Regions from separate parts of the Homo sapiens genome. Here region 2 is linked to region 1. The links come from fine-mapping of genetic effects on gene expression. A gene starts in region 1. The other region holds a variant in brackets. All regions are shown on one strand. Distances are between the middles of the regions.

Evidence for each region. PIP is the estimated chance that this variant, and not a neighbour inherited with it, causes the effect.
Region 2: its variant is the best candidate, but not a certain one, in a credible set for the expression of MEG3 in adrenal gland (GTEx, PIP 0.84).

The regions. Positions count from the first base shown.
Region 1 is chr14:100,824,346-100,827,247 of GRCh38, forward strand. MEG3 (maternally expressed 3) reads left to right here and starts at 1,773. Exons shown (of 10, transcript NR_190993.1): 1 at 1,773-1,872. RefSeq lists an enhancer at 1-73.
Region 2 is chr14:100,718,389-100,721,290 of GRCh38, forward strand. No RefSeq gene overlaps it. Among named protein-coding and RNA genes, the nearest start is that of DLK1, 7.1 kb to the right of the region's middle. The variant G/GGAC (reference allele first, on the strand shown) is at 1,607.

The DNA.
Region 1 (2,902 bases):
GCCTGCCGGCGTCTGATTGGCCGTGGGGGCCTGACGACAGGGGCTCCTGGTTGCTGATTGGCCCCGGCCAGCTCTGGCTGTTTCCTAGCTATTAATACTGTGGCTAATAAACGTTCTCCTGTTGACGCGGGTGCTCGGAGCCATGATTTTTTGAAGCGTTCTTGACGTCTGTGGCTGGTGCGGGCGTTTCTGCTGTGCAAGGCCTGCTTCCGGGGCTCTAGTCCCTGGGGCTCCTGGCAAGCTCCACAGGCTGTAAAGGGGGTGTTTTCTTTCTCCTTCGTGTTACCTGACATATTAAAGCAGCGCCCCATGAGGACCCCAACGTCCCACGTCTCTATCTCCCCAACAGTGCGCCTGTTTATGAAAAAACGAGCCCCCCACACGCCGTCCCAAGGCTCGGCGCCTCTAGTGACCTGACGGTCAATGTTCACCTCCCTAGTCATTAGCTGTGGACGTAGAAATAGCCTTTCTCCCTTCTTTTCAGCCCTGGAATCTCCCGTCTGCTTTACAGTCACCTTGTGGGATCGTTGGGCATGGGGGGCTCCCTCTGACGCCGCTTAAACCCCCCAAAGAAGTGCGGGGGAGCGATTCTGACTTGATGCCCTCGGCGGGGCCTCTCTGCTGTCCTCTTTGGGGCCCCTTGCTCATCCTCACCTGCTTTCTGTCACCGAGCACTCCATCCTTGTCCTCCTGGCTGCCACCCACCTGTCACCCTAAGATAGATCCTCGGTCCCTTTCAACAGCATTTTGACCTTTGCGAGAGGACATTTGATTGACGGCCCTGCACGCTCTGCCACTCAGAGCCGGGCAGAGCTGCCGAGGGCTCCCACCTGTTAGGGATTAACTCCCATGTGCCAGCTCCGGAGCCGAGGCCGCGGCAGGGCTCGGCGCAACATGTGTCGCTGCCTGTTTTTCGGGGCGCTGGGGCTCTTTCAAAGGGCATGTGTGTGGGGATCACCCCAACTTTGAGGGGTAGCTCAGGCATCTCCACATGGGACACAGTCCGCCCTCTAAAAGTACTTTCCTTAGAGGGCACGGCTCCTGTCTGGATTCTTATTACAACCCTGGTGTGTGTGGTGGGGGGTACCCCTGGTTAAGGTGGAGGAAGCGGACCCAGTGGAAGAGGAAGGGGCATAGCGGGTTCCGCGAACATGAGTTGTAAGCGGCAGAGCCCGGGACTCCACAGCCAGGGTTTTCTGACTCGGAGACGCGGAGCTCTGTCTCCCATGTCAAAGAGAACCAGTCAGAAACGCACGGGTGGGCTGGGAGGGGGTGACAGCCTCTGGCTTACATCTGGGAACCAGTTATGTCGCCCGGGCATTTTATTTTCCTGAACAATAAGAGAAAGCATGATTTTCTTTCGCTAAGCCCGCATCCTCCGATGGATGTTCCGAAACCGCCAGGTGTGGGATCTGCGCCCCGACAGCCCCACCTTGGCCATCGGCCGCCTGAGGACGGCCAGCCATCGGGGCGATTCCCCCCACACATTGTGCCTGAATTCACCCTGCCTGGCGAGCCGGGCTCACGCAGGGAAAAAGCACCCGCGACCACAGGGTGTTGGTCATGGCGGCCAGGGGCACTGCGGCAGAATTTTTTCCTCCCTTCTTTGCTGCAATCTGGGTGCGGCTAGAGCAATTTGTCATAGAATCTGGGGGGCTCATTTTTCCGGCCAATCACTTTTAGAGAAATGAGCGCATTGCAGCAGAATGCGCTGACGTCAGAGACCACCCCTTCTGCGCCTCCATATAAACCCCACCCAGCCAGCCCCTAGCGCAGACGGCGGAGAGCAGAGAGGGAGCGCGCCTTGGCTCGCTGGCCTTGGCGGCGGCTCCTCAGGAGAGCTGGGGCGCCCACGAGAGGATCCCTCACCCGGTGAGTGGTTGGCCATCCTTGCCGCAAAGGATGTGCAAAAGGAAGACGGCATCCGCTTCTGGGATGGGCTCTGTCCTCCTGGACATGCCGAGAGCCTGCCTGATCCTGGGTCCTGCTGCTGGAGGCGGCCACTTCGCCTGGTCCCCGAGCGTCCGCAACAAAATTTGTCAGAAAGAAAATCTTGAGGCACATTTCCCTGGGGGGAAGTCAGGGCTCCTCTCTGGAGGGTCCAGTCCTTAAGGGTGGGCTGGGTGGTAGGGACTTCAGTTCAGAGGAGCGGGAGGAATCAGATGGAACTCCTCTTGGATTCGGGTATACGGCAGTCACTGGGGGGCGAACCCCGGATTTCCTGTATTAGAAGCCGCCTCTAGAATCGCGTTAATAGTGGGAGATATGGCGGCGATGCCTTCTGCGTGCCCCATGAATTAGGGGGGGAAGCACCCGAATAGAAGGGTCTCCCGGGCATATTTGCCTCGCCAGCTGTTGGCCAGGTTTTTGGTGGATCGTGGGCGGGAGGAGTGGAGGTTCCTCTTCGCGAGGTTTTCCGAATCCAAATACACAGGTTTAGTGCAGTGTGGACCCCAGGCAAAATGTGGAGTAAAATTTCTACCCGATATCATCTGGTTCTGCCCTGATCAGCCACTTTCACAGTGGAGAGAGATGGCGCCCAAGTGCAAACCTGCCAGTAGCCCCCTAGGATCAGTCCTTGCCGAAGGGGGGTCGTGGGATTGGGGGCACTGGGAGAATAGATGCAGGGGGTGGGTTGGGGAGGAGAGAAGGCCGTGTCCTTGGGTCTGGGAAGAGGGAGGAGAGAAATGCAGAAAAGGGGGTGTGTTGCTGGGGTCTGGACGCTGGGAGCTGGGGATGGGGTGCCGCGGGGGTCTTCAGAGCGTTGCGTGGTGGTCGCTCGAAAATCCTGACATGTTGCAGTCTTGGACTTTTGGTCAAATCGCCTTTTGCCATTTCCTTTGTCAGAGTCAAGCCCCCCCAGGCCGCCCCCTCCCACCCTGGGCCGGCGGGCCTGGTGGGG
Region 2 (2,902 bases), 110 kb before region 1:
GTCTCCCCAGGCTTTAAGGGACCATTTCCCATCTCCATGTCCCTATCCCGGCCAAATGCTTCCTTATCGATTCCTTGATAGGACGGTGCAATTCAATCCCATGAATACTTAATGAGAACCTACTGTGCACCTAATTCTGAGCTTGGAGCCCAGGGAGAGCTGAAGTGAATTTGAGGAGGCACCCTTCCCTGCTCTTCCTTCCTCTCCCCTCCCCTTCCTTCCTTCTTTCCTGCCCCCTTTCTCTCTCTTTTCCTTCTGCGAAGGGTTTAAGTAGCAGGTTGCTCGGGATAGTGGTGCGTCTAGAAAACCTCCCTCTGACCCCTGGCCTGTAGCCGAGAGGATGGGGGTGACAGGCAGGCCCAGGGTTGATACAGCCATTAGGGAGAGAGGCTTGGACCAGGGTGGCGGTGAAAAGAATGGGGCTATGGAGATGGACTGGAGAGCGACTGGGGAGTGACAGTGCCTGGAGCTTGGGGCCCATTTGCACAGAGAAAGGGCAAAGCTATAGGAGCCAGGAGTCTAAGCCCTCACTCGCTGGGCCAACTGCAGGGTGGCGGAGGCCCTGGAGGAGGTTTGAGGGGGACAAATGGGAGATGCTCGTTTCAGAGAGACCTCCAGAGGGGACACCTGGGAGGCTGTGGGGCTCTAACCCCGGCCCCAGCTCTGGAGCGATGAAGGTAGAGAGAGCTGGACCTTAGTGTGCACATCTGCAGGCAGACTGGCAGACCAGCATCCGGTGCAGGGAGAAGGAAGGAAGGAGAAAATGAAGGTGGGGAGAGGACGTGACCAGCCCAGGAGACAGTCCTGCTGTTTCCCCAAATTCTCTGAAGCAGTGAAGTGACAGCCCCTGCTGGGCTCCAACTGGACCTCTATTCTTGTGACGCGGTTTCTTCTGTTTTCAGTCTGTGGGCTTTTTGGCCAGACCTTGGAGAGACCCATTTAAATGAAGGAATCTGAGGGTTCCTCAAAGGACATTTTATGGTCAACTTTTATAGTCCTCCCGCCTGGGCACCACTCCCCAACATTCTAGTCTTGCTCTGCCAATTCCTTGCTCTGTGACCCATGGAGAATTGCTCAGCCTCTCTGCGCTCCAGCATCCAGCTCTCTGGCTGAGAGGAGAGCCCCCACTGCTAGAGGGGGAGGAGAAACACACACACCTGGGCAGGGATCAAACTAAGGCTCATTACAAACAGAGCAAACTTGAATTTGGGTACTAAGCAACCCCGGGTGGGGTGAGGAGGTGAGGGGGTGAGGGGAATGGGGTTCCACTCACACTGGGCATCCCCTGCGCTCCGTCCCTAGCTGGATCCTGGCTGCAGACAGCCAGCTTGGGCCTCTGGAGGTGCAGTGTTGCCATAGGAACAGGCTCATGGAGAGCGTCTCAGAGGAACCAGGTGCTTGCGGGTGGTGGGCAGGGGCAGGTGGCAGCAGGGGGTGCTGGAGATGGTCCCGACACAGCTACTCCCCACATTCCTAGTGAAGGAACTGAGGGCTCTGGTGGGGAAAGAACCAGGTGGAGGCATCGCTGCAACCCTGAGGGCTCTCCTGTTTGCAAGTCCAAGGGGGTCAGTAACCCCCTGGAACCCAGAGATCAGAGGTGGCAAGA[G/GGAC]GACGGGTGGTTGGGGAGGGCCACCAGGCCGTGGACAGTTGCTAGGACACAGGATCTTTCCGAGGGGCCCATGGTAACCTTCAGAGAACACTTTGTGCCTCATTCATTTATTCATTAATTCACTTAATCCATAAACACCTCGAGGGCAGCGCCGCAGGCCTCTGGCTGCGGGGTGCCTGGCTGAGCAAGAAGCATCTGGCCTTGCTGGGGTCAGACACACGTGCAAAATCCATTAACACCAGGCAGGAAGACGTGTTCAGGGCTGAGATGATGCCCAGGGTGGCTGGGAGGGCCAGGACCCTCGGTGGGCGGGTGAGTGGGTGGGAGCCAGGGGACTTGGCAGGCATGGGATTGGGGGAAAGGCCTTGGAGGAGGAGGTGAGACAGGAACAAACCTCTGTCCCTCTCACCTCCCACCTGTGCCTGCCCCCTCCTTGGGGACTGGGCAATGTCTTCCTTCGCAGGAAATCCCTAGCGCCTGGAACACAGTAGGATACCAAAATCTTTTTTTTAAAAAATATAATTGAATGAAAATGCTAATGCTTCCTTACAAATAAGAGAATAAATATAGTACGGGAACATCTTAAATTCCTCGAGAGCTGTGTGTTTTCACGTCCCTAAACTTGACAGAGCTGCCTGCGAACAGGTGTGGAGGGCTGTGCCGCGCCGCTCATCCTCCCTTTCACAGGCTCAGCGCGCAGTGAGGTTATGATTCCGCCACAGTGACCCCACAGACTCTTAAGCAGGGGCTGGGATGAGGGCTCTCCCCAGGGGATCCAGGCTTGAGAAAAGGATTTCTTCTGTGGCTAAAGGAAGTATCCTCTTTATACGTCATCACAGGGTGTGTTGCCTGTGCCTCTGAAGGTCTCCACGAGCTGGGCCCTACTGGGGAGGTAGGTGGTGGGGGCTGGTGCCTCACTGGATGGGAAGGGTCGGGTGGCCCAGCCTGATTCCCAAGACTTAGCATCAAGTCTGGGCATGACATGTGCGAAGGTTGACTCTGGTATGACAAAAGAGGGCTTCTTGTTCCGTGGACTGTTTGCCAGGGCAAAGGAGGCTGCAGAATGTTGGAGAATAGTTAAGAGATTTATGTCCGAAATGTTGAAAGTTTTGCAACATTCTGCCTCATTCTTCACCATGCTAACTTTGCCCTCACTAACAGAACAGCCAACACTTCCTCGCCATCTCATGTGCATGCATACACACACTCATGTCTCGTTCACACATCTGTGCCTGTACAGCTCTCTCTGCCTGGAAGGGCCTCCCCATACCCTCCTGGAGAACTTCTGTGTACTCT